Regions from separate parts of the Homo sapiens genome. Here region 2 is linked to region 1. Evidence: fine-mapped expression QTL. A gene starts in region 1. The other region holds a variant in brackets. All regions are shown on one strand. Distances are from middle to middle. Region 1 holds the start of SLC46A2 (solute carrier family 46 member 2). Region 2 overlaps SNX30 (sorting nexin family member 30).

What was found. PIP is the estimated chance that this variant, and not a neighbour inherited with it, causes the effect. A credible set is the group of variants that fine-mapping cannot tell apart.
Region 2: its variant is the best candidate, but not a certain one, in a credible set for the expression of SLC46A2 in cerebellum (GTEx, PIP 0.88).

What each region holds. Positions count from the first base shown.
Region 1 is chr9:112,888,657-112,894,033 of GRCh38, reverse strand. It overlaps SLC46A2 (solute carrier family 46 member 2), which reads left to right and starts at 3,158. Exons shown (of 4, transcript NM_033051.4): 1 at 3,158-4,481. The coding sequence starts at 3,353.
Region 2 is chr9:112,849,428-112,854,804 of GRCh38, reverse strand. It overlaps SNX30 (sorting nexin family member 30), which reads right to left. Exons shown (of 9, transcript NM_001012994.2): 7 at 3,860-3,946. Among named protein-coding and RNA genes, the nearest start is that of SLC46A2, 39 kb to the left of the region's middle. The variant G/A (reference allele first, on the strand shown) is at 3,207.

The DNA of each region.
Region 1 (5,377 bases):
ATAACATAGTGAGATGCTGTTTTTACCAGAAAAAAAATTAAAATTAAAATTAACTGGGTGCAGTGGTGCATGCCTGTAGCCCCAATTACTTGGGAGGCTGGAGCAGGAGGATTGGCTGAGCCCGGGAATTTGAGGTTCTAGTGAGCTTTGATCGCAACACTGCACTCCAGCCTGAGCAACAGAAGCAAGACCCTGTCTAAAAAAAAAAAAGAAAGAAAAGAAAAAAAGAAAGAAAAAGAAATTAAGAACTGAGGAGCAAAGGGAGGTCACACTAAGGATTCACATGTACATGATACAGTAAGATGTTTAAAATCCACACTAGACATTCTTATTCTTCAAAAGTTCCTTCAGACCACCCTGACGCCAAGAGTTCTAGTCCTGACCCTTCTCACCAATACCTGCTGATCTTACTTCCTCCCTGAACTTCTTTCCCCTCTCTTCTCCCTCCTTGGTTCTCTCTCTCACCCTTCCCTCTCGTTGACTCAAGCATAAAGGTTCCGCCCCCTCTCTGGAACCTCCTCCACAGCTGGAATCCTCAGACCTGAGAATTTCACTCTCTAACACTGACCAAAGGTGTTTTTCAAAGACTGTTCCTTTCTAAGATGAATTTAGGGGCTATGAATTTTGTTAAGAAAACAAAAGTATTCCTTGCCTGAGTGTAAAGTGCCTGGGATATAGGTTCAACAGATAATCTATCCACTCTCTTGTTCCTATTTATGCAATACATTGTTGATCAACAATAATCACAACATGATTGTGTTGTTTCTACTCCTCTCCACATTCCAATGTGGGTTAAGAGGACATCCTCAAATAAAAATTTCTGGCAACTGTATTTTCCCCATAGCTGTAGGCTTGCAAAGACTGTCTGATGCCAAATACTAGTTTCCTGATTTACTGGCCTTGTGATCTTGTGCAAATTTCCTAACCTCTCTGGTTTCAGTATCTCAGTCTGTAAAAATGGGGTGATAGATCAGCTCACAGACTTCTCGGGAGGATTAAATTCATTCACGTAAAATGCTTAGTACATAATAAGGGCTCAAAAAATATTAGTTGCTACTGTTTTTTTTCTTAGTTCCTTTCTTCTGGAATAGTGTGATTTTATCAATCTAAACATCAGAGATTTAGTACTTGCACTTTAATGAAGCCAACCTTGCACTGGAGACTAGATTCTATCTTGAAGTGGCAAGGTCAGGGCTCTACTTGCTGGTAGCCTGGGCTGCAGAGGATGACCAGGTGCTAGCTCACCTGGGGCCTGCATTCAGAGATGGAGCAAGAAGTGGGGACATGATGAGAATATAATCCAACCCACAGTAGCCTAAACTGGGAGAGACACTGACTACCCTGAGTCTTGTTCATTTCCAGGCCAGAGAACTCAGAAGCCTGGGGGTTCCTAGGGCTGACTAGCATCCTAATAACCCAGCTCCTACTAGATCTGTTCTAGATCTGATGTGACTCTCTCAGAGACCCTTCAAATGTCCCTGGTTTCCCAAGACAATGGGAAGAACTGAAATACCACAGACCCTCCCAGAGATGACAAGGGCTGCCCCCTACAGTCTAGAGCCCTAGAATGCACAGACTCCTTGATCAAGTGGCCAGAGTGGTCCATCTGGGTCAGGTTGTTCTCATGGCCATATTTGATTGTGGAATACCACCTGGCCCCATAACCTACTCATTCACTGGAGTCTCCACCCCTCATAGGATCAAGGTGTTTGGACTGTTTGCTGTAGCCTCTGGAAAAATTAAGAATGGAGTGGGAGAGCCAGGCTTGGGTTGGGTGAAACATGTATCTCCCAAGGTGACCCTAGGTGAGGGGGAGGAAGAAGGAAATGGGCTGCTGGGCCAGATCCATGGGGCACATCTTGAAGGGCAAGACTAGGTGTGTCTTTCTCTTTGCAGAAGGCAGAGTCGTCTGGGCCTAGACACGAGGAGGCTGGGCCATGCTGGAGGTTGAGGGTGGCAGGGGAGGAGATTATAGCCCACCTAAACACTACCAAAAGAGCACATAGATACACTAAATCATTTGGAATCCAGTCCCTACTCCCTACATGAGTATATTATCCATGTGGCATTTTAAGCTCTCCCTGCATACCTGCGTCTCCCTTTCATGTCTTTGGGTTCCTGATCATCCACGCTGCCAGAGCTATAGTGGATTGTGGGTAGAGGGACAGGAAGGCTGTGTGCTTTGAGTCTCCATCCCTGGGGCTGACCATGGAACAGGTCATGCTCTGTGGTACATTTTGGCCCCTGCACCATCCATCACCCTGGTTTTCTTTGCAGAAGTATGTACCTAAACAAGAAGCGAGGCCACCTGGGAAGTGGAGGTCTCAGCCCAGCCCAGGGGAGTGAGCCCACAGACAGAAGAAGAGTGACTACTAACAAGCAGAAAGGGACCTGGGCACTTGATTCAGATGAGGACCCTGGTGACTCTGCCCCTTCCAGTGGGCTCAAGCCCCTGCCCAAGAGTCCAGTTTTATCATCTAGGGGGACATCTAGGGCTGGCAGGATCTTGCCGTCTCTCCCTTGGCCCTGGGGTTTGGGGCAGGAGCCTTCTAGACAAGGCCCAGGCACTAGGCCCACCAATGCAGGTGTACCAAACAGGACTCTTCTCTAAGAGGCCTTTGGCTTGGAGAAGAGCCTGGACCTGGCGGCTCCCAAGTTTTTACTTCTCTCAAAGTGCTACCCAGCTGCCTATAGCACATGGGCCCCTGTTGCATTAAATCTATAAATAAAACTTCACACCCCAATACTTATCCTAGGCAGAATCCTAGGCGTCCCACCCCTCGCGCAAACCTGCCTTCCTGGGATGGGAGAATTTGGAAACGCTCCCTGAGCCAGTCCTGGGGAGCTTCCTTCCAGCCCCTGCCCCGGTGGTGGGGGGTCCGCAGAGATCCGCGGGAGGTCCGGGCACGCACGCCTGGCTGTGGGGAAATTCGGCCCCGTCAGGCGGCCGCGCTCACAGGAGCAGCGTGACCCGTCGGCCCCGGGGGTGCTGGCGCCAGGAGCCAGCACTCGCGGTGCGCTCCCCCGCGCCTGGCTTCCCTGGACTGTCGCCAGTCCTACTCTGCCTGAGGTGGCGAGGGCAGGGTGGAGCGCGGCCTTTTCTGGCCTGAGGAGGAGTCACTCGGGAGGTCACTCGGCTGCTGGGCGGGCTGCTGTCACAGGCGCTGCGTGCCCTGGCTCTGCTCGCCACTGGCCGGCGCGCTCCCGGCGCACGGAGCACACTCGCGCTCCCGGCGCACGGAGCACACTCGCGCTCCGGGACTGAAACCTGAGCAGCCGTAGCAGCCGAATTTGGGAGCATATCCTTGTCACTGCAGCCAGAAAGCCCTTCGATCCCCATCAGAGAGGTCACATGAGCCCCGAGGTCACCTGCCCGCGGAGGGGCCACCTGCCTCGCTTCCACCCGAGGACCTGGGTTGAGCCCGTGGTGGCCTCGTCCCAGGTGGCTGCCTCCCTCTACGATGCGGGGCTACTCCTCGTGGTGAAGGCGTCCTACGGAACCGGAGGCTCCTCCAACCACAGTGCCAGCCCATCGCCCCGGGGGGCTCTAGAGGACCAACAGCAGAGAGCCATCTCCAATTTCTACATTATCTACAACCTTGTGGTGGGCCTGTCCCCCCTGCTGTCCGCCTACGGGCTGGGATGGCTCAGCGACCGCTACCACCGAAAGATCTCCATCTGCATGTCGCTGCTGGGCTTCCTGCTCTCCCGCCTCGGGCTGCTGCTCAAGGTGCTGCTGGACTGGCCAGTGGAGGTGCTGTACGGGGCGGCGGCGCTGAACGGGCTATTCGGCGGCTTCTCCGCCTTCTGGTCCGGGGTCATGGCGCTGGGATCGCTGGGCTCCTCCGAGGGCCGCCGCTCTGTGCGCCTCATCCTCATTGACCTGATGCTGGGCTTGGCGGGGTTCTGCGGGAGCATGGCTTCCGGGCATCTCTTCAAGCAGATGGCTGGGCACTCTGGGCAGGGCCTGATACTGACGGCCTGCAGCGTGAGCTGTGCCTCGTTTGCCCTGCTCTACAGCCTTTTGGTGCTAAAGGTCCCTGAGTCGGTGGCCAAACCCAGCCAGGAGCTCCCCGCCGTGGATACCGTGTCTGGCACGGTTGGCACATACCGCACTCTGGATCCTGATCAGTTGGACCAACAGTATGCAGTGGGGCACCCTCCATCTCCTGGAAAAGCAAAACCCCATAAAACCACCATTGCCTTGCTCTTTGTGGGTGCTATCATATATGACCTGGCGGTGGTGGGCACAGTGGACGTGATCCCTCTTTTTGTGCTGAGGGAGCCTCTCGGTTGGAACCAAGTGCAGGTGGGCTATGGTATGGCTGCAGGGTACACCATCTTCATCACCAGCTTCCTGGGTGTCCTGGTCTTCTCCCGCTGCTTTCGGGACACCACCATGATCATGATTGGGATGGTCTCCTTTGGGTCAGGAGCCCTCCTCTTGGCTTTTGTGAAAGAGACATACATGTTCTATATTGGTGAGTCTGTCATTCTTGAGGAGGCAGGACATTGCTAGCCCTCTGCATCATGGGGCTGACACCAGGGATGCCATGGTCTGGGTGTCCTAGCTCAGCACCAGGGATTGAACCTGCTACCTAGGAGGCACAAGGGACACAAGATTATATGCCCCTGAGTTTATCTGTAATGTATTGTTAATTAATTATCTATATTGAGAATGAAATGTTACCAGAGTGGTGTTCATGGTTCTGGGCAGTCAAGGAGGTGTGGTCAGTGGTACCTGGAGTCAGTAGGGGAGGCTTCAGGATGGCCTTCAACAGAGGAGATGGAATTGGGTTTCTTCCCCCACACCCCCTTGCCATTTTAAAGGGATGGAATTTCAAAGGCCGAGCGCAGAGGCTCTCGCCTGTAATCCCAGCACTTTGGGCGGGAGGTGGGAGGATCACTTGAGGCCAGGAGTTCAAGACCAGCCTGGCCAATATAGCAAAACCTCATCTCTACCAAAAGCATAAAAATTAGCCAGGTGTGGTGGTGCACACCTGTAGTCCTAGCTACTCAGGAAGCTGAGGCACAAGAATCACTTGAACCCAAGAGGCAGCGGTTGTAGTGAGCCGAGATTGTGCCACTGCACTCTAGCCTGGGTGATAGAGCAAGACTCTGTCTCAAAAAAAAAAAAACAAACAAACAAAAAAAAAAAAACGTGGAGGAGTGGAATTTCAAGTAATTCTACTGAAAAGATCCCTTAATTAAAATCATTTGGAGTCAAGCAAGGGCTTTTTAAAAATGCATTAAAATACTCGGTAAATGCCTTCCACAACCAATGTAATAAATTCCCCAAGGAAGCAGCATTAAGTTTCCATCTGAGGGCACAAGTCAGACAACTATAAGCAGAAAGCTCGAGATGAATGCTCCAATA
Region 2 (5,377 bases), 39 kb after region 1:
CGCAGCTGGGGTTTGAACCCAGGACCATCCCATTCTAAATCCTGTGCTCCAACCGTGCTGGACTTGGACAGGCTGCCAACTGCACCCTCCTCTGCCCACCAACGCAGCTGCTGCCCCAGACCCAAAGGCAGCAAAGGATTTCTGCTGCTGCCACTGTTACATTACATTCACTGGCACACCACCAGGACAGTCTATTTTGTCTTTAAAAATCACAATTGCTAAAGAAGCAGCAAAGTGAATGTGGCATGGTTCAACATCCCACCAGGAAGAGGGAAGGTGAAGATGGCCCAGCCACAGTGTGCTAAGAGATCGCAGATGTGTGTTCAGGACGGACTAGTCATTTTCACGGACTGGGGCAAACCCTTAGCCTCTGGTAAGAATTCCTGTGGCCGAGAGGATGAGCCATGTGGGTAAGTAGTGTCCAGGAAGGCGGACAACAGCAGCAGCCAAAGATTTCCACAGCACGGGGAGTGGACAGGAATCACCCAGACCCGCAGGAATGTGAGGCCAGGAGCCCTGGCAGGCAGCTGTGGGGGTCTGAGGGCACAAAACCAGCGTCTCCCTCTGCTCGAGACTGCTCCAAGCCTGGTGTGTGCTTCCAGCAGCCAGCAAGCCAGGCAGGGTTAAGACTTAACTCAGCCTATTATTCCGAACCTTCAGCTCCTGGCTTTGGAAAGGAATGTGTCCTGTATAGGGATGAACATATTAAATGACAGCATCAGCCTCTGAGAAAGCTCGTATTCAGTGCTGAGCTTGTACAGATGCTATTTACAGAACTACATACATGACGTCTTTAAAATGCAGGATCCTCGGTTTCCAAACTAGGCCAGTGGCAGAACTTGTTGGTTCTCCTTCCTTCCCTAGCCAGAAAAAGTGACTTCTATTTTTCCTTAAATATTTAACTGACACATAAAATTACATACATTTCAGGCGTATGACGTGATGATTTGATACATGTACACACTGTGTAGTGACGATCACAATCGAATTAATGAACACATCCATCACCACCCACATTTTGCATGGAAGCCCCAGGATTTTGTTCACCTTGTAACTGAAAGTTTGTACCTTTTGACCACGATTTCCCCATCCTGAGTCCCGGCAACCACCGTTCTACTCTCTGTTTCTATGACTTCAACTTTGTTAGATTCCACATATAAGTCAAATCATGCAGTTATTTGTTTTCTGTGAATGACTTCTATCTTTACATTTGCTGGCTAAATGCAAACTTTTAAAATATATACAAATAAATCATCCTATGTCATCCCTTTAAATCCCTTTGTTGAAAGGAAACTTTAAAAATATACACAAATAAATCATCCTATGTCATTCCTTTAAATGAGACTGAGACATGGCTTCAGTAGATGGCACCATGTTCCAGAAGATCACAGGCCAGCTCAGAACTCGTCAGTGGGGCCGGCCATAGGCAGACAGAGGGCAGCTGTGTGCACATGGCTCTGCATTTCTGTTGTCGCCTCCCTTGTGACAGACACACAGGATGGAAAAAGGCTGACAGCCTGTGGCAGGAGGAACCAGAGGGAGGGTGCCAGCTGCATACGCTGGGCCAGTGACTACAGTTCCAATCCTCATCATCTGCCTTTCCATAGATACATGCAGCCTTTACGCTCTGGTGTAGATCACTAGGGGTGATCCTGCTGGAATCAACACAACAAACATGCACAGGATGGAGAGCCACTCGGCATCAAAGAGGCTGGGCAATTTGTCCAGCTCCTTTGTGCCTCATTTCCTCACCCACGAAACGGGGAAAGAACAATGCCTTCCCCCGGGCCTCAGATGACCACTGCAGTGATCCTGTGATGCAATTAACATTAAGGACACTACAAAAAGCCAAGGTGTGTCATTTCTGAGGTGTGGGTTTCAAATTCCAAAGCTGGTTCCTTTCCAGGTATGTCTTGGCATGGCGGCAGCGGCAGGAACCATGGCAAAGGAGGAAATCCCCAGCAGCTCTGATGTCAAACCATTTCCCTGAAATGCAAGTCCCTGCTATTATCTTACTAACGTTCCTCACTCTTACCCCTCTCTTTGAAAACAAATACACGTTCCACTTACAAACCAAAAAGAGACAGAGTGATGTAATGGTAGGTAGCAAAATTCTAAAGTCAAACTGCAGGGTACCATCCTAGCTCTACCAGTGCTAGCTGTGTGACAGTGGGCCTTGGTTTGCTCATCTCTCAAATGGGGATAATAATGGTACCTAAACCTCATGGTTGTGGTATGGAATCAATGAAATTTTACACATACATGCACATATACATACACACAGTTGTCGCCTCGCTATCTGGTGGGGTGGGGTGGGGATCAGTTCCAGGACTTCTGAGATATCAAAATCTGTGAATGTTCAAGTCCCTTACATAAAATCATGTAGTGTTTACATATAACTGATGCACAGCCTCCTGTATACTTTAAATCATCTCTAGATTACTTATAATACCTAATACAACATAAATACCTTGTAAATCATTGTTACACAGGTTGGGCGTCCCCAGTCTGAAAACCCAAAATGCCCCAAAATCCAAAACCTTTTTTTTTTAAGATAGGGTCTCCCTATGCTGCCCAGGCTGGGGTGCAGTGGCCATTCACAGGCGCAATCATAACACACTGCAGCCTCTAACTCCTGGCCTCAAGGGATCCTCCCACCTCAACCTCCCCAGTAAGAGGAGGCCTGCCTATGGCCAGCCCCACTGACGAGTTCCGAGCTGGCCTGTGATCTTCTGGAACATGGTGCCATCTGCTGAGCCATGTCTCAGTCTCACTTAAAGGGATGACATAGGATGATTTATTTGTGTATATTTTAAAAGTTTCCTTTCAACAAAGGGATTTAAAGGGATGACATAGGATGATTTGTTTGTATATATTTTAAAAGTCTGCATTTAGCCCACAAATGTAAAAAGGTGGTAATCTGGCTCAACCAGTTCTGCAATCCCACCCAGGAGCAGAAGACACAGCAAGAAAACCTCACTTCCACCCGCTATGATTCCATCTCCTACCTGACCAATCAGCACTCCTCACTTCCTAAGCCCCTACCCACCAAATTATCTTTAAAAACTCTGATCCCCAAATGCTCAGGGAGAATGATTTGAATAACAGTAAAACTCCAGTGTCCAGTAAGCTAGTTCTGCACGAATTACTCTTTCTCCATTACAATTCCTTTGTCCTGATAAATCAGCTCTGTCTAGGCAGCAGGT[G/A]AGGTGAACCTACCGAGCAGTTACAAACACTGGAGCCAGAAGGCATCCTAGACAAGCAAGATTAGTGCTGCTCGAACTCTGTGGAGTAAAGGGCCACTTTTTGTTGGCTTTTTTCCCCCAATTCGACCAAGCTGTAGTCCTGCCGTGCAGAACCAGCACGCAGCTTGCTCCACATGCAACTCCTCACGCGAGTTTAACACGCTCGCCTTGAGTGTTCAACACAATGTGTTCAACTGGTTCTGCAGCAACATCAAATTCCTATAGAAGTTTCCAAGTGCTTCTATACTTTCCTCATCATGGATTGTATAGTTTGTGGGCCTATGAACCACACTTTGAAAGCACTGATTTAGGCTATTCTTTCCTTCTCTCTGCAATGCCATTTTATGGAGCAAGGAACTGCCGATGAATGGCAGAGCTGTTAAGTCTTTAAAAAACCAAAAATTAGGCCCAGGAAACAGTGGAAAACTCAATCCCAAGTGAACACTAGGAACTCGCAGAAATAGGACAGAAAAGGGAGTGAAAAAGGACAACATCATCAACGTAGCCCAGCCGGCACTGACCACTCTTAGTCATACAGATCTAGAGATGAGAATTTACTTAGCACCAGCAGGGAGACTACAGCTTTGCAGCCCTTCCCAGGTGGCTTCCCTGACCTTGGGGCGGTCTTCCTTCCGCAGAGCCACAGCTTCCAGTTTGGCTTCATACTCTGCTTGAACTTGGTCCCTCTTCTTCAATACACTCTGTGGGAGGCAGAGGAGAGAAGCATGTAACACTGAGTCCACAAAGGGGCCTCCCACCCCCAGGCAATTGCTTCTTTTCCCCCACGCCTCCCCAAATCAAGGCCTACCCCAGGCCCAGCCATGTGCTCCTAGGACAGTCTGGCCATGGCAGAAACTCTGGAGGAAGCAGGAGAAAGGAGGGAAGAGAGGAGAACCACTCCTGATGCTGGAGTTTCTAGTAAAGTAACTAAAACCTGACGCTGAAAGGAAAGAAATTCTAGGGAAAGGCAAGTGGAGGAAACAGCACCCATCCATTGTCACGCTGCTGGGAGGACTCTCCGCGTCACTGTGTGCAGCCAGAGCCCGGCTGTGCAGAAATGCGGAGCTTTGCAGGCTACAACACTGGATGTTCTCTGAAATCTTAAAGTCTAAGAGAACTCTTCACTCTTTAATTCACTGACTGGACCCCTAGTGGACTGATCTGTTCAATGATTCATTCATTAGCCACTTACTAGTCCTCTACTCTGGTCCAGGTATAGAAAGAGCAGAGAGATGCACTCCCTACCTGAGAGGTTCAGTGTGACAGAGGCTCAGACACAGTATGCGCCTGTATGTGCTAAAGGGGCTATACCTGTGCAAGTCCAGAATTCCTAGAACCATGCAGCCAGCCCACCAGAGTGAAGGCTCAATGGGCCCCAAGAGAGCCAGCCCTGGATGGGACAGGAGTGAGGCAAGCTAGGCACCCGGGGTGCAAAATGTAAGGAGACACTCCCTCTTTGGCCCATGTGAGTACAAGGTTGGCACCTGACAGTGAATGCCCTGTAAATCTGTGCCTGGGGCTCCCCTCACTTAGTCCAAGCTCTGCTGCTATGAACCCACCAAGCAAAACAGAAAAGCTTGCAGTAGACCTTCTAGAAAGGTGTCTGTTTCATCAACGAGTTTCTTTCTTCTTCCTTTAATAGAATCACAAGTGGCAAACCAAGAGTGATGAGACCTTTCTTTTCCACTAACTCAAAAGAAATAAATTGCTATGAAAGTTTCTAATCATGCACTTTCCCCACAGGGGACCTTCCAGCAGCGTGAGGAGTCAAGGCAGGAAGGAGTCACTCCTTGGCTAAGCACGGGCACCCCATATCCCTGCCTGTGCTAAAGGTGACAGGCAACTGAAGAGTTGAGAGTGTTGTGGGTTCAACCTTCTAATGGAATGTGTCAATACCGGAAACCTCAAGTCTTCCTCTGAAAAGTTTGCTTTAGGAAGTGTTTTATCATGAAATGAAAATGAGGTTAAAATTGCAATAATTTTTCGTCAATTGCCACTCAGCTGTCTCCTAAGTGCCCTGACATTCCCTCCCCACACTCATTCATCTTTGAGTAGGAATATTTACAGTGCTGTTCAATGGAACTTTCTGCTATAATGGAAACGTTTTATAATCTACACTAACCCAGGAGCCA